Linked DNA regions of Homo sapiens: regions 1, 2, 3, 4 and 6 are each reported to be linked to region 5. The links are microRNA targets in miRTarBase. Many come from high-throughput screens and were not tested one by one. Region 5 holds a microRNA gene; each other region holds the end of a gene's coding sequence.
The links. Region 5 holds the annotated microRNA hsa-let-7f-5p (UGAGGUAGUAGAUUGUAUAGUU, at 2,826-2,847, opposite strand). A microRNA usually pairs through its seed, bases 2 to 8, with sites in the 3' UTR of a target mRNA and lowers its output. Matches are read on the target gene's strand: a 7mer-m8 pairs with bases 2 to 8, a 7mer-A1 pairs with bases 2 to 7 and ends in A, and an 8mer does both.

Region 1: the mRNA of UBAP2 is a reported target of hsa-let-7f-5p. The part of its 3' UTR that is shown has no 7-base or 8-base seed match.
Region 2: miRTarBase lists KIAA0930 as a target of hsa-let-7f-5p. Seed matches in the 3' UTR shown: 7mer-A1 at 874-880 and 8mer at 1,691-1,698.
Region 3: the mRNA of UBAP2L is a reported target of hsa-let-7f-5p. The part of its 3' UTR that is shown has no 7-base or 8-base seed match.
Region 4: the mRNA of SLC20A1 is a reported target of hsa-let-7f-5p. Seed matches in the 3' UTR shown: 7mer-m8 at 3,052-3,058.
Region 6: the mRNA of CCNB2 is a reported target of hsa-let-7f-5p. The part of its 3' UTR that is shown has no 7-base or 8-base seed match.

The regions. Positions count from the first base shown.
Region 1 is chr9:33,919,119-33,923,250 of GRCh38, forward strand. It overlaps UBAP2 (ubiquitin associated protein 2), which reads right to left. Exons shown (of 29, transcript NM_001370062.2): 26 at 4,068-4,132; 27 at 3,848-3,915; 28 at 3,569-3,760; 29 at 2,575-3,481. The coding sequence ends at 3,386. UBE2R2 (ubiquitin conjugating enzyme E2 R2) reads left to right here. Exons shown (of 5, transcript NM_017811.4): 5 at 1-1,281. Among named protein-coding and RNA genes, the nearest start is that of SNORD121B, 13 kb to the right of the region's middle.
Region 2 is chr22:45,193,475-45,197,474 of GRCh38, reverse strand. KIAA0930 reads left to right here. Exons shown (of 10, transcript NM_001009880.2): 10 at 259-4,000. The coding sequence ends at 299. Among named protein-coding and RNA genes, the nearest start is that of MIR1249, 5.5 kb to the left of the region's middle.
Region 3 is chr1:154,269,596-154,273,727 of GRCh38, forward strand. It overlaps UBAP2L (ubiquitin associated protein 2 like), which reads left to right. Exons shown (of 27, transcript NM_014847.4): 27 at 605-1,252. The coding sequence ends at 700. It overlaps HAX1 (HCLS1 associated protein X-1), which reads left to right and starts at 3,034. Exons shown (of 7, transcript NM_006118.4): 1 at 3,034-3,181; 2 at 3,741-4,003. The coding sequence starts at 3,129. RefSeq lists a silencer at 2,650-2,790 and an enhancer at 2,928-3,097.
Region 4 is chr2:112,662,710-112,666,841 of GRCh38, reverse strand. SLC20A1 (solute carrier family 20 member 1) reads right to left here. Exons shown (of 11, transcript NM_005415.5): 11 at 3,017-3,978. The coding sequence ends at 3,817. Among named protein-coding and RNA genes, the nearest start is that of SLC20A1, 19 kb to the right of the region's middle.
Region 5 is chrX:53,554,421-53,558,420 of GRCh38, forward strand. It overlaps MIRLET7F2 (microRNA let-7f-2), which reads right to left and starts at 2,854; the gene lies at 2,772-2,854. HUWE1 (HECT, UBA and WWE domain containing E3 ubiquitin protein ligase 1) reads right to left here. Exons shown (of 84, transcript NM_031407.7): 60 at 2,962-3,007; 61 at 213-500. It overlaps MIR98 (microRNA 98), which reads right to left and starts at 1,921; the gene lies at 1,803-1,921.
Region 6 is chr15:59,124,624-59,128,755 of GRCh38, reverse strand. CCNB2 (cyclin B2) reads right to left here. Exons shown (of 9, transcript NM_004701.4): 9 at 3,711-3,989. The coding sequence ends at 3,879. Among named protein-coding and RNA genes, the nearest start is that of CCNB2, 22 kb to the right of the region's middle.

The DNA of each region.
Region 1 (4,132 bases), not on the chromosome of region 5:
TTAGTCAGATCCATGGAACAGAGCAGCTTCGTAATACATTGTCAAGTTACCTGATTACAAACTCTCATAGATGTTGGAACTACCTTTTTACTCCCCATACTTTGTAAGTAATGCTTCCAGATTAACCTGCAAATCTTGTGGAGCCAAAGCCTCTCACAGTGCTGATTTACCTCCCCCAAAATGCCCCCAAACCCCCATGCAAGTTTACAGCCAGTAGCTTGGTCTTATTCTCTTGGAGCCCTAAAATTAAGCCTTTCATTCCCCTTTGCTAAAGCATCTCACTCCCAGGGCAGCCCCAGCACCCTGGCATTGCGGGAGGTGCTCTGCTGCACAGCTGTTCCATCAGGCCCTATTGGCCTCTGTTAGACATTGACTCAGGGAGCCGGAGCGCCAAGTGGAGGTTGTACCTTTCAGCCCTTTGGGGTGTTAAAAGTGTCAAGGGCTGGGTTTGCCTCTGATGAGTACAATCAGTTCCAGAAGACTGGGTAAGTCTCTTGCTAGCAGGTGGACATTCTGGTATTTTAGACTGACTGAACGAAACCCAGAGGCTGGTTCCAGAGCTCTGTCCCTGAGAACACATCCCTGTGGAAAATACTTGAGTTTGTAATTTTTTTTCCCCCTTCTGGGAGTGGAGGTCTCAGGCTCAATCCGGAACCATGTACGTACAGTTTTGCTTATTATTTGATGTGACATGAACTCAAAATCCTGCATTTTTAGATTCCTTTTAGTTCTAATTGAGGCCTCACTAGATGCTCTTCAGTTCTGTGTATTTTGAGGCTGGGTGGAGAAGTATATGATTCTGCTGTTGATTCTTTCAGTCTTCCCCCCTTCTCCTTTTATCAATCATTCCAGAGTTATTTTCTATTAGTCAAACTTTTTTGTAGAACCTTCTTTCCCTTACCCTGGCAAATTGCTTCTTTACTTGCTGGTTTCCTTACGTTTGGGGCACATGTTGTAAGAAACTGATTGGAAGGGGAAATGTGCAGCTCTCCACTGGAAAGGAACTCTCCACCCCTCCCATCCTGATAAAACAAACAAGGTTTACATTTACAACTAAAAGGATTCAGATGCAATTTTCAACTATTCTGAAACCAGCAGGACACACCTGACTTTAATAGTTTTAGCTGAAATTGTAGATGTTTTGCTTCAGTTTAACTTATGAGAAAAGATTATCTGACGGATTTTGTGTTGACTTCCCCTTTAGTGGTTTATTTTGTCTTTTTCTGCCCATCTGTCTACTAATAAAATGTGAAATAAAATACCTGTATTGCTACTTCCCCATGAAATGACCCTCTTCTTTTTTTACCTTGTGTTAAAGAAAACTAAAAGGTGGTCTCATTATCACTGTTAAGTTTGCAGATTACGCTGGGGCTCAGCTGAAAAATTAGACAAAAACCAAAACTGGGGAATCTGCCTTTCTAACTAACTCACCTCCCTGGTGTATCCCCAGTCCCTTCAAGCTCCTTATAGACGTAGCCATTTGTTAAACTTGATTCTGAAAACGGGAGCTGATACAAGTAGGTCAGTGAAGGATTGAGGGGTGCTCTGCTGCTTTCCTTAGGCAAACATTTTCACTGTCATTTGTTTTCCTAACTTACTGCTGCTAATAGCAGGGATCAGGCAGATCACCCTATTTAATAAAAGTCCTAATTTTACCTGTAGACACTTACCTTTTTTCTAGGTAAGGTCCCAAGCTGTGGGTTAATAGGAGTATCGGTCCCATCTGATGACAGGACCATCGCTCTCAATTGTAGAGGCCAAAAGCAGAAAAAGTAGATTGTGACCCCAGGCTGGTTCTGACACAATCAATCAATCAATCACCTGACTAGCCATTTTATTTCCTCCTTTAACCTGATCTGAAGCAGCGATTTAGGAGTGAAAAGAGAGGCTGTAGCACCTTGGGCAACACTTCTAGGCCCTGAGCTTCCTGCCTGCTGGATTGGAGCACAGTTGTGGTTGGCCAACAGGAGATCTGCCTCCTTCCTATGGCCCTTGGTTACTCCCTGGCTTCTGACCTGACACAAGGTGAATGGTTGGTTGGGCTTTTCTGGAGCAGATATGTAGCCCCGGATCCACCAGCCTACCTCATGACACCCTCACTAGTCACGTGTTCTACCATAGCTTTTGACTGCCAATCAAGATTATGTTCAGTTGATGACAAGCAAAAGACAGGTATACCTGTTCATACTCTCCCTTAAGGCCTAGAACCCTGCTCTCAGTTCTTGGCTTTGCTTCAGATTGTAAAAGTCCACTGAGATTTGGAAAAGAAATTACCCTGCCCTGGTATCCAGTGGACAGGGCTCTGTGGGACACTGCCCTATCCCTAAGTCTCTTAAGGAGCTATAAGAAAAGCCAGGTTAACTTTGATCAACATGGCCTGGGCCCTGTAAGGAGGTTTAGCTGTCCTTACAGCCATTGTGATTTGGGCCAAGAGGGTCCAGTAAAAAGGAAAACCATTTCAAGCCTTTATAGCCTGTGTCAGAAGACTATGACCATGTGGGATCTCCTTTAGCCCTGTGAAGTCCAGGGCTTCTGCCCTGAGCTGCCCTTCAGTCACACCACACAGAGACCATGCATGCTCTCAGAACTTTATTAGGTGGGGATTGGGCAAGAGAAAACCCCTGAAACAGTTGCCCACGTGGTTCAAGACAACTAGAATGGAGATGTGTTGCTTGGAGATACCTTAGATTTTTAAAGGGGAGCTGACTGGCTGAATAACTCAGATTATTTTTTTTTTTTTCATGGTCAGCCAGTCTCTAGTAAGTCTCTAGGGACATGACCAGACCAGAAGCCCCTGTTCTATATGAAGACAAACAGGTGGCCATACTTGGGTGGAGGGATACCGCTGCTATTCCCAGATGAAGATTTGGTGGAAGGAGACCATGACAGATGACAAACGGAACAGTTTCTCAAAAACAGAGGTATGAAGTAATTACACAGGAAAGAAAACAATTTCCAAAGGAGTGAGACAAGTCGTGATTCTTCATTGGTACCTGACCCCTATACCCAAACAGCCTTGAACCAGCCCTTCCAGAGACTGCCCCTAGTGGCCCACTGGGCAGTGCAGGCTGTGAAGAAGACCTGAAGGCAGATGGGGTGGGGGTGCTTATTTTGCTACAGTGGAGAAGGGGCTTGAATGGGGAGGGCAGACCTGGCTAACATCTGCCGCCATCCCCCAACTCCCCCCCAGACTTCTATCACATTTACAAATACATACATAAATACATTACATACAGTAGCCAGTCTGGGAGGCAGACTCCCCACAGAGGCATGGCTGACACATGTCGGGAATTCTAGGAAAGGGCACTGGGCTCCCAAATACGTGCTCGTGTGTTCTCTCCTGCCCAGGATAAGCCTTGCCCCAGCCCACCCCTCTCTTCTGGGTTTAGTTTGTCCAGTATGGAGAGTTGCCGTAGGCAGGTTTGGAGGCTTGAGACTTGGGCTGCAGGGAGCTGGGCTGGCTGCGCTGACCCGAGCCACTCTGAGGAAGAGGAGAAGGGAAGGCTGTCAAGGCTGGAGCAGAACCCCTGGCCCAGAGTAGGGTGGCTGCCTCCATCACTGTACTCACCTGTGCATCCTGCGGAAGGTGGTGGTGCAGCAGCTGTGAGTGGGGCTGCTGGTGGGCTGGCAAGATGTGTAGGAATGGTGGGGGTGCATAGCCAGGGGCCGCTCCCGAGGCCAGGGGCCCAGTGGAGCCCAAGACCGAGGGCAGGCTGAAAGGTGGAGGCGTCCCTGCATGAAATCCCTGCTTGTCAAAAGTCTACAGGGCAAAGAAGACAATGGTGAAGGTCAGGTTGGGCTGTAACCTCTCAAAAACCTATACACCCAACCCACCTTTGTCCCTCACCTGTGTCTTATTGTAGACAGAACCAGTCATATCAGGTAGACCAGTGGTGCTTGAAGACACTGATACTCCTAGGAGGAAAAGCAGTTGTTCCCCACAGCAGTTGTTCCCAGCTCCAGGCTCCCCACCTCCAGGATCACTCAGGGGTTGCCCTGCCTGAGAGGGGATCAGGCAGGAGCCCACCACTCCAGGCCTTATCCTGGAAAGGAGAGGTAAACACTACCTTTGCCAGGCCCAGAACCTGCAGACTTGTTTGGTGCCTGCGATGATCCAGCATAGCCACCTTTG
Region 2 (4,000 bases), not on the chromosome of region 5:
GCTGTGACAGGCAGTGGCTCTGGCCCCCACACCAGCTTGCACCTGAGGCCCTGCAGGGTGTGCCGTTGCTGCGAGCCCATTTCCCAGTCTGCAGGGTGAGGATGGTGGAGACACGTCTCCTCTGCAGTCTGTGAGGCCTGGAGAGGAGATGCATGAGTGGCTGAGGCGGGCTTCCTTCAGAAGTGGCACTGCCGTGACCATAGCACTCACCGCTGTTGAGGGTTACTGTTTCACCTGCTTCCCTCCTGCCGGCCCTAGACATCCTGGAAGTTCGGCAGAAGCCCATCCTGATGACCTAGCCGCGTGCGGAGCCTGCGCAGAGCCCCGGCCGGGCCCAGCCCTCGGAGTGCTGCCAAGTGCCTACCTGTCCACCGCCACCGGGGTCTGCGATGGCACGCCAGTGCTGGAGCCGCAGCCAGGCGAGGCCACTCGACTCCCGGGGCCGGGGCCGACTCCACGAACACCAGCCCAAACTGAAGTGCCTCTTCCCTCCCCTGCTGGCGCTGCTCCGCCCTGTGCCCCCCGCCCATCGCCCCCCACCCATCTCTGGAGAGCCCTCTGCACCCAAAGAGGACTAGAGATGCCGAGCGGCCATGAGAGAGAGCGGAAGGAGCAGCTGATGCCCAGAGCGGGGCCAGAGCGGCGGGTCTATGTTCACGTCCCCCCAGCAGCAGGCGGAACCACCCAGCCAGGGCACTCAGTGCATTGGACTGTCCACATGTTCTTGAGGAAAGCCGGTGGAAGATTCTGGAATGCCGTGCGGATGAACTTCAGCACCCGAGTCAGTCCCAGCTCATCCTCCCCAGTTTACCACTTTGTTCTAATAGGAGATGGGAACACGAGAAGTTTGATGGCTTTGCCCTGGGCTGGGAATACCTCACCCACGCCCAGTTCCAGAAAGGCCTCCAGCTGAGCAGACGGCCCCGATCCCGCCAGAACGGCCTTTTGCTTCCAGCCAAAGAACACCGCCAACACGCACACCTCCAACCTGGGACATCCCACGCTGGGCCTCGCACGGAGGAACCTGCAGAATTTGGATTCTGAGGGTAGTCGGGAGGCCTCGGTAGCCAGGCAGAACAGGATATCTGCCAAAGGGTGTCTGATGTGGGGTGGGGCTGGCATCCTCCCAGGAAGGTTCTAGGTGGGACCCCGTCTTCTGGGGGCGGGGGTGTCTTTTCATCTTCCCTGGTTTCCTAGAACTCACTTCCTTTGACGGCGTGTGTTGGTCCCATCTCTCAGACCAGCTCACTGAGGCAGAGGAGTTGCTCAGAGGCTCACATGGGCACCCCCATTGGTTCGTGTGAGCAGCTGCCCAGCCCCAGGCCTGCCCTCGGCCTGGTCCAGCATGAAGGCGTTTCCATCTGCAAGGATGCACGGTACCCTCCCCGAGAGCAGGCCTGTCCCCTACCCAACTGGGAATAAACTGGAAGCTGGGTCTCTTTGTTGCTATGTTTTTTTGTTTGAAGTTCCCAGGAATATTTGAGGGGTTCCGGTGATGTGTTTAGGGATCTTCTCTGTGGGGGAAAAGGAAGAGGAGGGTCTTGTTCTCCCATCTGTTTATTCTTTGGGCTCTGGGAACAGGGGACTACTTTGGGGCTTTCTCCAGACTTTTGTATGTTGTTATTAAAAGCGAGCTATTGCATTTCATTCTGCCTCAGTTTGCCCACCTGTGAAATGGGGCTGATACCACCTACCTCACTGAAGTCCCAGGGTTCAAGTGTGTGGCTGGGTCAGGGCGTGGTCACCCGTCATTCTGCATAGGTCGGGTTGGATGTTAGACTCCTGGGATGCCCTCCTCCCCCTCGCCCTTTGTAATAACCTAATCTGAGACCGTGCTTGGTGGGGGGATGTGAACTTTCTCTCTCCCCCAGCAGTGTCTGCTCAGGCCTGACAGCTCAGCTCTGCACGATTTCATGTTCCTAAACCCATGTCTTAGGGCAGCACAGAGCCAGGTCATGTCATGCCCCAAAGTGTGGGGACAGAGCCTCAGGGAGCCCCGAGCATGGTCCAGCCCCATTTGAGTGCTCTCCGGGGATGCCAAATGCTGCTTCCAAGTTTGAGTCCATGTGGCTAAAATACACCCATTTCTTCAGGAACTCTTCCCCTGGTTGTTCTGGGGATCTTGGGAGAAACACAGCCCTGACAGCTCGTCCGTGGGAAGATGAGGCAGTCCAGGTTGTGAGGAGCACAGCGGCCCGCCCTCTGTTCTCAGAGGTGAGGGGCGGGAGAAGGTTGTCTCCTCTGGGGCCAGCATTTGGCCAAGCTCGGAGGCTTGGCCAGCACTGCTGGATGGCTCAGAGCAAGCTGGGCTCCCCGTCTGTAAGATGGCAAAAATGCTGCCCCCCTCACAGGGTGACCATGAGGACCAGTCACAGTGATGTGTGAAAGGGCTCGCTGGTCACAGAAACGTGTACAAATCATGCTATTTTAGAGATCAGCCCTCAATTTGTAAGGCATGTGAACAGGGCACGCGGTGGGCTGGTGGTTTCATAGCCGACACACAGCGCCTACCATGTGCAGCTGCCTGTCCGACCCCATCTTACAGACGAGAAAACCAGCACACAGGCACCAAGGAACTGTCCGGAACTAACAGCAGGGGCCGGCGATGGGAGTCAAACCCAGGCACGCGGCCTGGCCTGCATGCTGAGCCACATGGTGCTGTCCGGACAGATGGACAGACACTCGGTGGAGTCTGCCTTTCTCAGGCCCTAAATCCCTCTCCAAAGGGTACTTGCGATGCCGGATTTAAAACTTGCTCAGAGCCACTTAGCCACTTGAGAACCAGACAGTAAGGTGTTACTCCCAGGTTTGTTTTTCCAAAGTAACAGATGACATGTGGAATAAAGTAATAGAGTAACAAGTGGCAGGGCCAGAACCAGGGTCCCCAAAGTCCTGGTGTTGGCACATTTGTACTTCTTGTAAGACCATCTTTAATTTTTCTGGGAACACACCTGCCTTTTGTGTAATGCGGGGAAGACTAATGCATGGTGACACCTAGTTTTCCTCAACAGGACACTTGATCCCAAAACCCCTTTAAGACCTTAGGTTTCCTCAGCGGAAAACTGTACTTTAATCCCAAACCCCCTTTAAGACATATTGGGGCTGGGCGCAGTGGCTCACGCCTGTAATCCCAGCACTTTGGGAGGCTGAGATGGGTGGATCACCTGAGATCAGGAGTTCAAGACCAGCCTGACTAACATGCTGAAACCCCATGTCTACTAAAGATAGAAAAATTAGCTGGACATGGTGGCAGGCACCTGTAATCCCAGCTACTCGGAAGGCTGAGGAAGGAGAATCACTTGAACCTAGTAGGCAGAGGTTGCAGTGAGCCGAGATCACGCCATTGCATTCTAGCCTGGGCAACGAGAGCGAAACTCTGTCTCAAAAAAAAAAAAAAAAAAAAAAAAAAAAAAAAAAAAAAAGATACATTGGTCTTTAAACCCAAACCCCCTTTAAGGCATGTTGGTCTCAAGGGGATTTGGGATTGAAGCACAGCTTTCTGTTGAGGAAACCTAGGTGTCACTTTTTAGAACATTAAAAAGAAAGTTGTAGGGTGGGCTTTTCCATTTAAAGGAATGTGATGATCCTAGGTTCTGATGAGTGATAGGTGGTCTCCGTTTATACCCTTTCTTCTTTTGGCACCTGTAAGTTCCGGTAGTGGCCATCTTACATTCTCATGTCCTGCTGGAAGTGCCTAGTTGCCTGCAAAGCCAGCTAAGGCTTATTATTTCAAAAGAAGATTATTTAAAACATGAGTGACAGGTAGTCAGAAGAGAACAAAAGGACGCAAGATACTCTATAGCCAAGTCAGCTTGGAGGCAGGATGGGTTGCTGAGTGAAGTCGCCGCTCACTTTTGGATTCTTATGGACTGTGAGTTAGTCTTCCCTCTACACGGAGTCACAGGAAGGGTATAAATGCATGTTCCTGAGGTGCCCTCCCCCAAAGAATGTACCTGCACTCAAACCAGGATCTGTTTTTGCTGTTTTAATCATAAATAGA
Region 3 (4,132 bases), not on the chromosome of region 5:
ATCTTTGTACCCTTCCCCAGCTGTGGAAAACATTCGGTTACCAGAATGGAAAAGATTCTTGGGGCAGCATCTGGAGCCTGAGGCCTCAGACTGCCTCTCATACCTGCCTGAAATGGGCTCACAGATGTGATGTGTGGTAGGGGTGGGGATCTGTGGGGCGATGCAAGTGGCCTCTTGAGAGCTCCATTATAGGTGGCTGGAGCTAGAATAAGGGCTTCCTTCCTCAAAGACAGCTTTCCAAATTGAGGCATTAATGGGGATCAATGGAAATGAAATTGCCTTGTGATCACCCATCTCCAAGAGCAGGGGAGAGAGGGGGTAGTGTGAGAATGTAGAATTGAAAATGAGTAGAACTCACTCACTACCTTGTCTCTAAAGGTATCTTGCCCTCTTCATCTTTTCCCTATTTAAAAGTCAAAAATGCCTTCCTGCTTGTAAGAAAGGGGCTTTAGCAGCTATGCAGACCAAATTTTCTATGGTTCTAATAGTAGTGAGGGGAATGGGAGAGCAAGACAGTTTGCACATCTCCACCTGAAGATGTTACAAATTTGTACCACTAACTAGACACCTTTTTCCTCCTCATGATCCTCCCATTCCCCTGCAGACGGGCAGCGGGCAACGTAGCCAGACCAGCTCCATCCCGCAGAAGCCCCAGACCAACAAGTCTGCCTACAACAGCTACAGCTGGGGGGCCAACTGAGGCCCTGACCCTCTTCTCCCGGTCCCATCTTCTGAGAGGGCTTCTCAGCCTGGAAACTATGGAAACAGCATCAAAGAGAAAGGAATGTGGGGGGTTTCCGCTGCCCCCCACCCCCAGCGGCCCACCCCATGCCTCAGCTTCATGTCTGTCCCATTCCTATACCATCCCCACCCTGTTGTATGTATTATAGGATTTGTATTTTCTCCTTTTTTTTCCCCCTTCCATTCCTTCTCCCCTCTTGCATTCAAGATTATGAAACTTTGCTATGGGCCCTGCACTTCCTTTGCTTCCTCCTGTTCACCCTGGTGGTGTACGGATGAGGCGGGGAGGTGGGACCCCCAAACATATATCAGCCCAACAGCCCTAAGTCTCCTTCTTTATTATTAGGAAAACAACAACAACAACAAACAAAAAAATGGCGTCATGAATATGAACAGCATTGTCAGATGAATTAGTTGAAGTGGTTTTTTTTTTGTTTTTTTTTTTTTTTTGTACTGTGTCCTCAAATTTAATGGATTAATGTGTCTTGTATATATAAAAAGAAAACCTCTACCTTCAGCCTCTGCCTATTCTTGCTCCGTCTAGGACATCCTCAATTTCGTCGATGACCAGCTTGGTGAATAAGTATTACTGTACCAACTGGGCCTCCTCTAGCAGGCCCCTGAAGGCAGTGGAATAAAATGAAATCTTCGCCCTTTAAGAACTCCTGACCTTAATGTGGTAGTAGTATCTTGTCCTTGAGGGGATTTCCTTCCCCTCACCCCTAAGACTTTCACAACCTGGTGACTGGAAAGAACCACCACAAATCTTCATTTCCTCCAGAAACTGCTACATCTACAGCCGATTTCAGGCAGTAAAGGGAGAGGGATAGAGGAGATTGGGTGGAAAATGGAGAGGATCAAGAAGGAGCTGAGACCATTTCAAAGAAAAAAAATGCTTTATAGAGTTTTAAGTATGACTTAGATGGGTCCAGGCAAATAAACTAAAAAGAAGTGAAGGCAACATGTATCGTCTGGCAGAACTAAATCTTGGAGTGGGGTGAGGGATGAAAGACTACATATTGGGTACAGTGTACACTGCTCGGGTGATGGGTGCGCTAAAGTCGCAGAAATCACTAAAGAACTCATCCATGTAACCAAACACCACCTGTACCCCAAAAACGAAATAAAAAAACAAAACCTTGGGGCCCATTCCCCCTAGGAATGGACTACTGTAGTAGTGGCTTCTTGGATGCTTCTCTGTGACATAGCTATACCCAATTCTTTGAAAAAGAATCTAGAGCAAGGTCTGGCTTGGGGATGGGGTACAGGGAGAGACAGGTCTCGGAGAGGTTTTGAACAAAACACTTTTAAAAAGGAATGAGGACAGGCGCTTTGGGAGGCTGGGTTGGGCGGATCACCTTAGGTCAGGAGTTCGAGACCAGCCTGGTCAACATGGTGAAACCCCGTTTCTACAAAAAATACAAAAGTAGCCGGGCGTGGAGGCGCATGACTGTAATCCCAGCTACTCGGGAGGCTGAGACAGGAGAGAACCTGGGAGGCGAAGGTTGCAGTGAGCCGACATGGTGCCACTGCACTCCAGCCTGGGAAACATGAGAGAAAACTCTGTCTCAAAAAAAAAAAAAAAAAAAAAAAAAAAAAGATACCAAAGGGATATTTCTTTATAACCCCCAATTTGTTCCTTCTCAGGACTCAACTAGCTTCCCTTCCCTTGCTTTCTTAAAAATCCTTTGTCTTGCTGGTTGCAGAGCCTGCTTAGAAAAAAGAATTCTATATAGTTATAACAAACTCCCTAGTAGCTAGAGAGGTGGAGGAAGTTAAGTCCATGCGTCTCTTATGTCTTGATCTCTTCTCTGGGAAATTCAATACTAGAAGGAGCTTGGAAAAGCATTTTGTTCATCCCTCTAACAGCAGACATCGCCCAGGTCAGTCAAAAAGAACGCCCGAGTAAGGAGCGAGGTGGCTTCTGCTGTGAGGCTGGCCAGCCCCGCGGGTGGGGTGGTTGAGGGACGCCCTCAAGCCGGTCCATTTGTGCGGCTGGGCTGCCCTCTGGCGGCTTTATCCGGGTGCCATCCAGAGTCAAACCCTCGAAATCGCTTTTCGTACTGAGTTGGTCTGCAGAAAGAAGAACAGATTTAGGAGGAAGGCGGTCATAGGAAACTGAAAGTGCGTCACGCCCACTCCCGTCACGGAAACTGGTCTCTGAAAGGTGGGGTAAAGATAAAGCCTTTCAAATTTGAGGAAGACCTTCGGTCCCGCCTCCATTTCACGTCCGGCTTACCGTCGTTTACGACAGTGTCAGGATCGCGGGCTTGCTTTCCGGTAGCGTGGGCTGACGCCTCGCTCAATTTCTCACAGGGCTGCGCAGGTTTCCCCCGTCTGCGAATGGACCACTGGAGGGGTTCAAAGGTTCGCGTCCCAGTACGGGAATGAGCCTCTTTGATCTCTTCCGGGGCTTTTTCGGCTTTCCTGGACCTCGGAGGTGAGAGTAGGTCCGGCTCGGACAAGGGTGGGGGTCGTCTGAGGGGAGCTTGACCCCTACGTCTTATTTTTGGAAAAACATCCTCTGTCCCACTCCTTCAACTCCTGCAGAGAGGACAGAAGTCGCAACATTGAACACTCACCCCGCCACAGTAACCAAGGCGGTCATTAAGAGGAGAAACAGCAAACTAAGCCTTTCTCCAACCTGGGGTGATGCAACAGGGACCCGGGCGGGGAAGACCGTGAGGGTCTGGGGAATAAGACAGTGAGCAAGTGAGCAGGACCTTGGGAGAGAGAGGAGGGACTGGGGCACACTGAAGAAAAACTGGGGGAAGGTGTATGAAGGGAGCTGCGAGCTGAGGTCTGACTTTGATTAAAAAAAAAAAAAAAAAAAAAGAACTGTCAGCCATTGTATTAATGTTTTGATGTGGCAGCCAGTCCTCCGACCCTCTCCCTAGCTTCCCAGACCCCTTGCTCTTGTCCCACTTTGCCACCCATGAGTTGATTTAATGGCTTAAATAGTGCTGAAATATTGGTGGCCAATCTGCCTCCACTCTCAGCCACAGAGATCCCTTTTTTGGAGGGATGACTCGAGATGAAGATGATGATGAGGAAGAAGAAGAAGAAGGGGGCTCATGGGGCCGTGGGAACCCAAGGTTCCATAGTCCTCAGCACCCCCCTGAGGAATTTGGCTTCGGCTTCAGCTTCAGCCCAGGAGGAGGGATACGTTTCCACGATAACTTCGGCTTTGATGACCTAGTACGAGATTTCAATAGCATCTTCAGCGATATGGGGGCCTGGACCTTGCCTTCCCATCCTCCTGGTGTGTGGCTTTCCCTAAGGGGCAACCTGTGGTTTCTGGTGGGTTGGTGGGTGAAATAAAGAGCCTGCAGGGAGTAGCTGGGGGATGGGAAGTGTGAGAAGACTGATGATTTCAGAGAGATTAATAGAG
Region 4 (4,132 bases), not on the chromosome of region 5:
TTACCTAAACTGCGGTAACTAAACCGGTGCCTATTGAAGCCACCCTAAGGATGGGCTGTCTAGGCTGAAAACAGTGAGGTTAAAATATGTGGTGACCACTTCCCCCTCTGAGTCCTAGAACGTTCATTAGTTAGGCTTTTAGCCTTCTGAAGCTTTTCTGGGGTTCCTCCAAGGAAAGAGCCCAACCAGATCACCCTATGTCAGGGTTCTGCAACCTCAGCACTACTGACATTTCAGCCCAGGTATTTTCTGTTGTGGAGTTGCCCTGTGTACTGTAGGACGCTTACAGCAGCATCTCTGGTCAGTACCATCCCCCAATTGTGACAACCAAAAATGTCTCCAAATATTACTACCATAAATGGGACAAGGGAGAGTCACAAATGGGGACTGGGGACAGCAAAAGTCACCCCTGGTGGAGAACTCCTACCCAAGACAAAGGCCCAGTAGTCCCAGAAGTGTCACCCGCACTCAGCCAAAAAATGCGAGAGGGAAATAGTAACACAAGTATATTATTTAGATATAAAGAGACAAATACCAAAAGAATTGAAAGTGGTTGCCTCAGGAAAGGGAAATGTTGGCAGACCTGTTTTTGTTAACAAGCCTTGTTGGACCAGCTGGCTCTTCAATTTGCCCAACCTTGATTTTCAAAAAACTTTTAGTTAAGAAAAGGCAATGTCAGCTGAGCCGTGGTGGCTCACGCCTGTAATCCCAGCACTTTGGGAGGCTGAGGTGGGTGGATCACCTAAGGTCAGGAGTTTGAGACCAGCCCGGCCAACGTGGTGAAACTCTGTCTCTACTAAAAATACAAAAATTAGTCGGGCGTGGTGGCGCAAGCCTGTAATCCCAGCTACTCAGGAGGTTGAGGCAGGAAAATCGCTTGAACCCTGGGAGGCAGAGATTGCAGTGAGCCGACATCGCGCCATTGCACTCCAACTGGGTGACAAGAGCGAAACTCTGTCTCAAAAAAAGAAAAGGCAATATCTATGCCGAAAAAAAAGGGGGGGGCCAGGGTTCTCACCATGTGTCCCTGCCCCATGGCAGACAACTAAAGTAGAAATATAACCGCTCCTCTGGTCCCTTCCCTAGCTCTAGAGGCTCCTCTCCCCAGGTCTACCTGCTCTGCCTACAGAAACACATCCTTGGTGTGTTCAATCTTTTCACTTCCCTGGGCCACACTGGAAAAATTGTCTGTAGCTGGACAAGCTTGGTCTAAGTATTTTCTCAGCTGTTCTGTCCTGAGCCAAGTGAAAGTGCCAGGGAGGTTCCTCTTCTCCATGTAATCACTGGGCTCTGAAAGGATCTGGGCTTTTGTGAGGTCATTCAGCACGAAGGGAAGGCAGTGCCAGAACTCTGAGGGTCTCCTCCCAGACCCTCAGTTCAAGGCCTAATGCTCGGTCGCCCTTTACAACAGCCCCCTACCCTCCCTTCCCTCAAGTAACAAGTCATAAAGCTAGTTTCACCCAGCCCCAAAGGCTACAAGTAACGGGCACCCTCTGCTAACTGACAATACTGGGCAAATACAGATGTTCTCCACGCCAGTTTCATCATGTACAAAATCAGGATAAGATCTACCACAAAAGGCCATGAGGATTAAATGTAGTCTTCTGCAAGACCATTAAACTGACAGCAGGATGCAACGGCATGTACCCAGCCAGTGGCCTAACCTTGCAGGCACAGGTTAGACTAGGCACTGCCTTACCCTGTTCGATTCTTAGTGTTGGTTTCTAGTGAAACGCTCCAAATAAACTCAAAATTCAAAAGTATTGTTCCAAACCCTCAGGACAGGAACTATCAATCTAGTTTGCCAAGAAATGTACTTTTCATTAACTTCTGATCAGGGGCAAAAATATAATGGGTCAGAACTGAAGAATCCCATACTGAGAACTTTTAAACAAAACTTAGCTACACATTGCCTCCCACTCATTTTTGCTTTCCTTGTACTGATGTCCTTTGAACACTAGTCTGAACTGCAGAATCCACTTATACACAGACTTACTTTCACCTCTGCCATCCCTGAGACAGCAAGACCAACTCCTCCTTTCCTCCTCAGTCAACTCAAGATGACAAGGATGAAAACCTTTATGATCCATTTCCACTTAATGAATAGTAAATGTATCTTCCTTATGGTTTTATTTCCTTTTCTCTAGCTTACATTATCGTAGTACAGTATATAATACATACATATAACACGTAAAATATGTGTTCACAACTGTTTATGTTATTGCTAAAGCTTCTGGTCAACCGTAGGCTACTGGTAGTCAAGTTTTTGGAGTCAAAAGTTATACATGGTTTTTTGACTGCATGGGGGTTGGTGTCCAACCTCCACACTGTTCAAGGGTTTACCGTAATACCAAAGCTAAAAACAATCTACATAAAATAGTAAAATAAAGCTGTCCATTCAACAGTAAATCTTTGGCTGTGAAAAACCATGAGTAGGCCAGACGCAGTGGCTCATGGCTATAATCCCAGCACTTTGGGAGGCCAACACAGGCGGATCACTTGAGGTCAGGAGTTTGAGACCAGCCTGGCCAACATGCTGAAAGCTTGTCTCTACTAAAAATTAGCCAGATGTGGTGGTGGGCGCCTGTAGTCCCAGCTACTCAGGAGGCTGAGGCAGGAGAATTGCTTGAACCCAGGAGGTGGAGGTTGCAGTGAGCCGAGATCACACCACTGCACTCCAGCCTGGTGACACAGCGAGACTCCGTCTCAAAAAAAAAAACAAAAAGTATCAAAAGAAAAAACTGGAAAAACAAAACAAAAAAAACACCCGTGTGCTAACATGAAAGTGTACAGGCTGTGCTACTAAAAGGGAAAATGCCAAGTTGCCACCACAGTCCCTATGGAGTAATGTCTTGCATATTCTGGGCACACAAGAAGCATACAGGGAGGGGTTGGGAGCTTTAAGTTGGACAGTAGCTCTCACTTGTTAAGATATTCACATCACCTAAGAATGATATTAGGCTAACTGATCAGGAGCCCAGGTGATTCGAGTATGAAAGAAAACCATGAGAACAAATTTTCTAAAAACTGTAGGCTTTTTTATTCAGTTAAGAGGTAGACAAATGAACATGGAAGGCTGTCCCACTTAACTTGCCCAAAGTTCACATTCCACTTCATTCATCCATCCCACACTGCCAGAAATCTTAAAGAAATAACCAAGATTGCCAACAGGCTTTTTCTTTCTTACTTCTTCTTAGCAATAACAGTCAATAAACTGCTTGCAAAAAAGTTACTAATTTAAATTTTCACTGTGTTCAAAGAACCTCATCCCTCTAAGAAGCTCCCGAATATGCCAATAGATCCTGCCACTACTGACAGGAGGGCAGAGTACCAAGGACTCTACTTATATAAGAGACTACAAGGGAAGTTGTAGTTATATTTTTGTTGTTAAATCCCTGTGCATGTGAGGGCAGAAGCTGGTGAAACCAACAACGCAGAGCATGCTCTGTCAAACGGCTCTTCATGGTTTAAAAAAAAGAAAAAAAAATCACAAGTCATCTTCAGAGACAACATTAAAACATAATGGAATTGAAGCCTGATACAAAAAGTAGAGAAATATGTACAGGAATTCACAGCCCAGAAGGAAAGGGGACCTCAGCAGGAGCCAGTGGAACCCGGGCTATTTTACACAGCTAATTTTGAGACAATTCATATTTAGCACAAAAGCAGTTATAGCACAAGTAACACTTCCCTCCTCTGGCTCCCAAATAAAAAGACTCTTGTCAGTCTTCTGTTAACACTGTAATCATTCTTCAGGGGAGCAGGAATACCTAAGATGGTCCCAAACATTGACACAAATTTTAATCTCAAACAGCTTCACATTCTGAGGATGACATATCTGAAGATTGCCATGATGGCAGCACTGATAACTCCAGAAATGGGGACTGTGACAAACCAGGCCATAAAAATGTTACGAAAGAGACGCCAGTCAACAGCCTTCTTGGACCGGAGCCAGCCAACAGACACAACAGAGCCCACCTAGAAGAGAAGCAGACCAAGGAAACAGGTTATTGAAGTGCCAGTGGTATTCTGGCAAACAGACACCTGAGACTGTTTGGACAAGGAGCCCCAGACCCCTGGACAAGACAAAGTCCAAGAAAGCTGGTTTACAACAGGTTAAGCTGGGAAAATG
Region 5 (4,000 bases):
GTTGGTATCATCACCAATATCATTAGACATTCAACTATCACCAGTTCAGGACCTCAACTTCACTTAAGAAAGTGAATGCGCAAGACGAGATCTTATTATTTGAGAAGTTGAACTCCTACTATTTCTCTCAAGCAAAAGAGCAAAGAGAAGCTACAAAGACATCCTTTCTTCCCTCTTGTTTCATCCTCCCCAAATGTTGAAATTCTACTCACTTATAGTGGGAGCTGGGGATAACTCCATCTGAGTTGTTTCTGCTTCCCCACTTGGCCTTGTGGGACCCAATTCCTCTGGCTCTACAGGCATCAATAGCTGTGTAGAGCTGCCCCCTTCTCCAGCTGGAGACTGCAGCTCCTGAGGAACCTCTCCCAAAGCTGGTGGGGTTGGGAGTGTTGGTTGCTGTTGTGAGGATTGCAGAGTGCCAAGGGTCTCCTTGGACTCAGATGTAGCTGCATCAGTTGAAGATGGGGTTGTTGGGTAGCTGTCAGGCATAGGCGTCCCATCTTTCTCGGAAAGAACAATAATAGTGGTTAAGGGGCAACCAGCCAATGATGAGGGGAGCCACCCCAATCAGCAAATGTGGCCTGATAAGTATCCCACCCAGCCAGTGATCATCCCCACAACAAAAATACTCCAAGGAACATCTCTGGTCTGGTATACTAAGGATGAAGGTTAAGGCACAGTGCTATCTCTGTCCCAAGAATGCAAGAACTGGAGCTCTGACTCTGTGGATTCTAAGAATAAAATCCTTTCTGTGCCCTGCAGGTGGAAGGGGGAAGATTTCAGGCCATATAGGGTGAGGCTAAATGTCTCTGACCTATAGGTACACAGAAAATCTAACTACCAAAATCCTATTGATCCTCCCACTTCATCTATTTGGAGCAAGAAATGGTCAGAATTTCGTTCAAAACTCTATTTGTTTTTTTTGGAGACAGGGTCTCACTGTTGCCCAGGCTGGAGTGTAGTGGCACAATCATGGCTCACTGCAGCCTTCACCTCCCGGGCTCAGGTGATCTTCCCACCTCAGCCTCCCAAGTAGCTGAGACTATAGGCATGTGCCACCATACCTGACTAATTTTTTGTATATTTAGTAGAGACAGGGTCTTGCCATGTTGCCCAGGCTGGTCTCAAACTCCTAAGCTCTAGCAATCCACCCACCTCGGCCTCCCAAAGTGCTGGGATTACAGGCGTGAGCCACTGCGTCCAGCCCTTCAAAATCTTTTTTTTTTTTTTTTTTTTCCTGAGACAGAGTCTTGCTCTGTTGCCCAGGCTGGAGTGCAGTGGCGTGTTCTCAGCTCACTGAAGCCTCCACTTCCTGGGTTCAAGCAATTCTCCTGCCTCAGCCTCCTGAGTAGCTGGGACCACAGGCGAGTGTCACCAAGCCTGGCTAATTTTTGTATTTTGAGTAGAGGCGGGGTTTCGCCGTGTTGGCCAGGTTGGTCTCGAACTCCTGACCTCAGGTGATCCACCCGCCTCGGCCTCCCAAAAATGCTGGGATTACAGGCATGAACCACTGCGCCTGGCCCAAAATTCTTAAAGTATGCTTTCCATTCCCTTGCACACATTCCTGTTCTATTACTAATAAAATGCAATCATTACACAGTTGAAGAATAGCAAAATGAGTTCATGCCCAAAGGTAAAATAATTATATGCTCCAATTAATGAAAGACAAGTCACTTTATAATGACATCTGCCTCACCCTAAACACCATCTGTCCCCTTCCATGTCTCTTTTCTTCCAGTCCAAATTATCCAAGGAACATCTACAACTTTGTCTGATGGAGGCAACACTGCTAAGACTAAGTGTGAATATGCCACACACCAGGGAAAGTAGTAAGTTGTATAGTTATCTTCTAATTGGGGCCTAATATCCCTACCCCACAACAATACAACTTACTACCTCACCCTGGCATGAGCAGAATCCTCTAATAAGGGCAGCAGGCAAAAGGCCATTTTACATGGTGACAGACTCTTTTAAAGATCTTTTGCTAGATTAAGGGTACCAAGGCATCTACCCTACTTCACTGCTTTAAAAAATATTGTGCAGGCTTTGGTACAATCATTTTCCAACTCAAGTGCGAAAGGAGACAGGTGTAGGGAGGCAGAAGAATGTTCTGAGGAAATATGGGTGGGGGAGACATATGATATCACATGAACCAACTGATAGAATCACAAAATGGCTACTGACCATTGTTAAGAAGATCAGAGGGAATAGGAAACATACGGCAGTCATACCACTAAGCCCAGAGAGCTACCTTCATGAACAGCACACTATCCAAGACAATGTTCCTAGACTTTTAGATTCCATGGACCAATAAAATTTAATTAAAAAAAGAACAAAAAGTAGAGACTAATGTAGGGGTTGCCAACTTTTAGTTTAGCCATGTAAGAAAAAACATCCAATCAACATCATTTAATAAAAATATTTTGGTACCACAGAATTAGGAATATGATCTCTAAATACAAAAACAGCCTTTTAAATGGAATAAATTCAGCTTTATGAAAAAGGCATTAAAGCTCCTTGATTTTGTTCGTTTCCACAGAGGACTGGCATTTGAGAACCACTGTCATCAGTTATTCTCATGAAGTGCCACACCATGGTGGTCATCAAAGGACCAGCCACTTCAAAGATGTACATGAACATGCTGTTTCAGAGGACAGAGTTGCAGTCAGGAAATGAACAAGACACATGACCTCATTACCCATGCCAGAACAAAGTAGATAATAACCAGAACAAGAACCTGAACAGAGCCAGTCGGAGAAGAAGTGTACCACCGTGGGAAAGACAGTAGACTGTATAGTTATCTCCAAGATGGGGTATGACCCTAAAACTATACAATCTACTACCTCATCCCACAGAGCACCAGTGTCCATCTTCAGCCTATGTGGGCCAGCTACTCGGAACTATCAGGATAAAGAAGCAACCAATTGATTAGTAAGAAGGGAGAAAGGGAAGGAGAGTTACCTGAGAGATTCTGTTCAGTGGAGTCATTTGACTTAGATGCAGTACACTGCAAAAAGAAGGGATAGACCAATGTGGGACTTTGCAAGCACCTAAGATAGAGGTCAACTGTAATAGTCACCATCCTCCACCCAGACCATCTAGGAGTTCAGTGATCTAATGGAGAATGCTTTGGCCATGTGACCAAAGGAAGGTGATCATTTCACTGTGCAAATATATGACCAATTTCTCTATACATACTCAGGTTCAAGAATTGTTTGGGGCTGAGGGGGAAATAAATATGGAAGGAAAGGATAATAAAAACCCCTTAGGGATGGGCACGATCATGATCATTCTAGCAAGAATTTCTTGGTTTCATCTATGTATTTTTTCCCTTCATGGGGCTTATTTTTTATTTTGTCCACTCTAGTCTTTTCAGTCACAGGCTAGGTTCACTTATTTTTCATCCTATATCAAGTTTGAAACAATGTGTGTATTAGGTAAAAAGTTCTATATAAAGATATTTGTTAGATCAACCTTGTTATTTTAACTGAACACTTCACTACCCTTATTTTTAATCTACCTGATTCCTTAACTGCTGAGTAGGGTATACTAAAGTCTTTCACTCTCAAGTCTTATTTCTTTGTATTTCTATCAGTTTTTCCCCCTTTTATATCAAGTGATACACTGTAATGTATAATTCTATCAACATTTACTCAGACATTTAAAAGATCTCTGTCTGAGGTCCCAGAAGTTTCAGAAAAAAGTAGGTAACTTCCTTCTAAACCAAAATTGTATTAGTGATTTTATACATGTGAGCCCTAGAAAAAATGACATGTGGTGATGGGGTTCAGAGTACAAACATTTTCTCTGATCTGACACCTAGGCTGATCTTACTCAAATGACGGAATGGGGTCATCTCGGTAAGATTCCCCACACTGGCAGTTCACCGACAGAAATGGAAGTGGGCGACTAAGAGCATGGACTTAGATAAGGTTTTTCTCCTTGTCTTGATGCTGTCCTTGGCGGTAGAGACTATGCAGTGTGACTGTTGAGTGAGAAG
Region 6 (4,132 bases), not on the chromosome of region 5:
TGAGAACAAAGACACAAGGCACCAGAATCTCTGGGACACATTTAAAGCAGTGTGTAGAGGGAAATTTATAGCACTAAATGCCCACAAGTGAAAGCAGGAATGATCCAAAATCGACACTCTAACATCACAATTAAAAGAACCAGAGAAGCAACAGCAAGCATATTCAAAAGCTAGCAGAAGGCAAGAAATAACTAAGATCGGAGCAGAACTGAAGGAGACAGAGACACAAAAAAACCCTTCAAAAAAAATCAGTGAATCCAGGAGCTGGTTTTTTGAAAAGATCAACAAAATTTCAAAGACCGCTAGCCAGACTAATAAAGAAGAAAAGAGAGAAGAATCAAATAGACACAATAAAAAATGATAAAGGGGATATCACCACCAATCCCACAGTAATGTAAACTACCATCAGAGAATACTATGAACACCTCTACGCAAATAAACTAGAAAATCTAGAAGAAATGGATAAATTCCTGGACACACACACGCTCCCAAGACTAAACCAGGAAGAAGTCGAATCCCTGAATAGACCAATAACAAGTTCTGAAATTGAGGCAGTAATTAATAGCCTACCAACCATAAAAGTCCAGGACCCGACTGATTAGCAGCCAAATTCTACCAGAGGTAAAAAGAGGAGCTGGTACCATTCCTTCTGAAACTATTCCAAACAATAGAAAAAGAGGGAATCCTCCCTCACTCATTTTATGAGGCCAGCATCATCCTAATGCCAAAACCTGGCAGAGACACAACAAAAAAAGAAAATTTTAGGCCAAAATCCCTGATGAACATCGACACAAAAATCGTCAATACAATACTGGCAAACTGAATCCAGCAGCACATCAAAAAGCTTATCCACTGTGATCAAGTCGGCTTCATCCCTGGGATACGAGGCTGGTTCAACATACGCAAATCAATAAACGTAATCCATCACATAAGCAGAACCAGTGACAAAAACCACGATTATCTCAATTGATGCAGAAAAGGCCTTTGACAAAATTCAACACTGCTTCATGCTAAAAACTCTCAATAAACTAGGTATTGATGGAACGTATCTCAAAATAATAAGAGCTATTTATGACAAACCCACAGCCAATATCATACTGAATGAGCAGAAACTGGAAGCATTCCCTTTGAAAACTGGCACAAGACAAGGATGCCTTCTCTCACCATTCTTATTCAACACAGTATTGGAACTTCTGGCCAGGCCAATCAGACATGAGAAGGAAATAAAGGGTATTCAATTAGGAAAAGAGGAAGTCAAATTGTCTCTGTTTGCAGATGACGTGATTCTATATTTAGAAAACCCCAGTATCTCAGCCCAAAATCTCCCTAAGCTGATAAGCAACTTCAGCAAAGTCTCAGGATACAAACTCAATGTGCAAAAATCACTAGCATTCCTATACACCAACAACAGACACAGCCAAATCATGAGTGAACTCACATTCACAATGCCTACAAAGAGAACAAAATACCTAGCAATCCAACTTAAAAGGGATGTGAAGGACCTCTTCAAAGAGAACTACAAACCACTGCTCAAGGAAATAACAGAGGACAAAAACAAATGGAAAAACATTCCATGCTCATGGATAGGAAGAATCGATAGCATGAAAATGGCCATACTACCCAAAGTAATTTATAGATTCAATGCTATCTGCATCAAGCTACCACTGACTTTCTTCACACAATTGGAAAAAACTACTTTAAATTTCATATGGAACCAAAAAAGAGGCCGCATAGCCAAGACAATCCTAAGCAAAAAGAACAAAGCTGGAGGCAACATGCTACCTGACTTCAAACTATACTACAAGGCTACAGTAACCAAAACGGCATGGTACTGGTACCAAAACAGATATATAGTCCAATGGAACAGAACAGAGGCCTCAGAAATATCAGCACACATCTACAACCATCTGAACTTTGACAAACCTGACAACAACAAGCAATGGGGAAAGGAATCCCTATTTAATAAATGGTGTTGGGAAAACTGGCTAGCCATATTTAGAAAGCTGAAACGGGATCCCTTATACTGGTATACCTTTTACAAAAATTAACTCAAGATGGATTAAAGACTTAAATGTAAGACCTAAAACCATTAAAACCCTAGAAGAAAACCTAGGCAATACCATTCAGGACATAGACATGGGCAAAGACTTCATAGCTAAATCACCAAAAGCAATGGCAACAAAGCCACAATTGACAAATGGGATTGAATTAAACTAAAGGGTTTCTGCACAGCAAAAGAAACTACCATCAGAGTGAACAGGCAGCCTACAGAATGGGAGAAAATTTTTGCCATCTATCCATCTGACACAGGGCTACTATCCAGAGGCCACAAAGAACTTAAACAAATTTACAAGAAAAAAAAAAAAACATCAAAAAGTAGACAAAGGATATGAACAGATACTTCTCCAAAGAAGACATTTATGCAGTCAACAAACATATGAAAAAATGCTCATCATCACTGGTCATTAGAGAAATGCAAATCCAAACCACAATGAGATACCATCTCATGCCAGTTAGAATGGCGATCATTAAAATGTCAGGGAACAACAGATGCTGGAGAGGATGTGGAGAAATAGGAATACTTTTACACTGTTGGTGCGAGTGTAAATTAGTTCAACCATTGTGGAAGACAGTGTGGTGATTCCTTAAGGATCTAGAACTAGAAATACCATTTGAGCCAGCAATCCCATTACTGGGTATATACCCAAAGAATTATAAATCATTCTACTATAAAGACACATGCACACATATGTTTATTGCGACACTGTTCACAATAGCAAGGACTTGGAACCAGCCCAAATGCCCATCAGTGACAGACTGGATAAAGAAAATGTGGCACATATACACCATGGAATACTATGCAACCATAAAAAAGGATGAATTCATGTCCTCTGCAGGAACACGGATGAAGCTGGAAACCATCATTCTCAGCAAACTAACACAAGAACAGAAAACCAAACGCTTCATGTTCTCACTCATAAATGGGAGTTGAACAATGAGAATACATGGACACATGGAGGGGAAAACCCCTGCCAGGGGCCTGTCACGGGGTGGGGGACTAAGGGAGAGATAGCATTAGGAGAAATACCTAATGTAGATGACAGGGTGATGGGTGCAGCAAACCACCATGGCACATGTATACTTATGTAACAAACCTGCATGTTCTGCACATGTACCCCAGAACTTCAATTAAAAAAAAAAAAAGTTCAATGCCCATTAAAAACCAACCAAACAAAAAAATGCAAAGCCATTTACCCCATAATGTACCTGAAAAAATGCATGCCAAGCTTCACCTTGAACAGGATGCCACGGGCCCATTTTCTCCAGCTGTGACCCATGGGATGGCTCTCTCTGGTCTCAACAATGCATTTGAGAGAGGGACCCATTACAAGGGTTGCTCTGGGCCAGGCGTTCCTATGCAGGAATTAGAGAGCAGCTGACTAGCTTCTAGAAAGGAAAGTGTCATGGTTATCCTCCCATTTAAAATTTTCATAATAAACTTATTTGTATTCAAGAAGCTTAGGAATAGGTTTAGTGTTCACTGAGGCCAAGTTCTAGTTTTTTCCATTTGAGAAAATGGTAAAAAGGTCTTGCCCAAGCCATAATGGCAGTAATTTACATGCTATTCATAACAGCTCAAAAAGAAATTAGTCAAAGCAAGCTTTCACTGATTTCTTAAGTACAGAATACACAAATAAATACACATGGGATACCTTAAGAAAAACCAATCGCTTTATTTTTCCTCAATATATGTTTAGAAAACTGGTCTGAGAAGAGGTTTCATGAGATAGACCAGAGGACTATGTACAAAATCAAGAGTTCTAAACCAATAAGAAAAAGGGCACAATGAAGCACACATCCCCAGGGGCCACGGCAGCCTAGGACCTTCCTATCAGTGGGGAGGCAAGGTCTTTGACGGCTTTTGAGTTCAGCTGAGGGATCATGCTGATCTTCAGGAGTTTGCTGCTTGCATACTTATTCTTGATGGCCTGCAGAAGTCATTTGTGATTAAGCACATGTCAGGAACCCCCAATGATACCTTATTCCTAGTCTAACTCACAATTATCAAAGGTCCACGGCTACAATCATGATCACATTGATGATGCCCAATCGCTGAAGCCAGTGAAAGCTC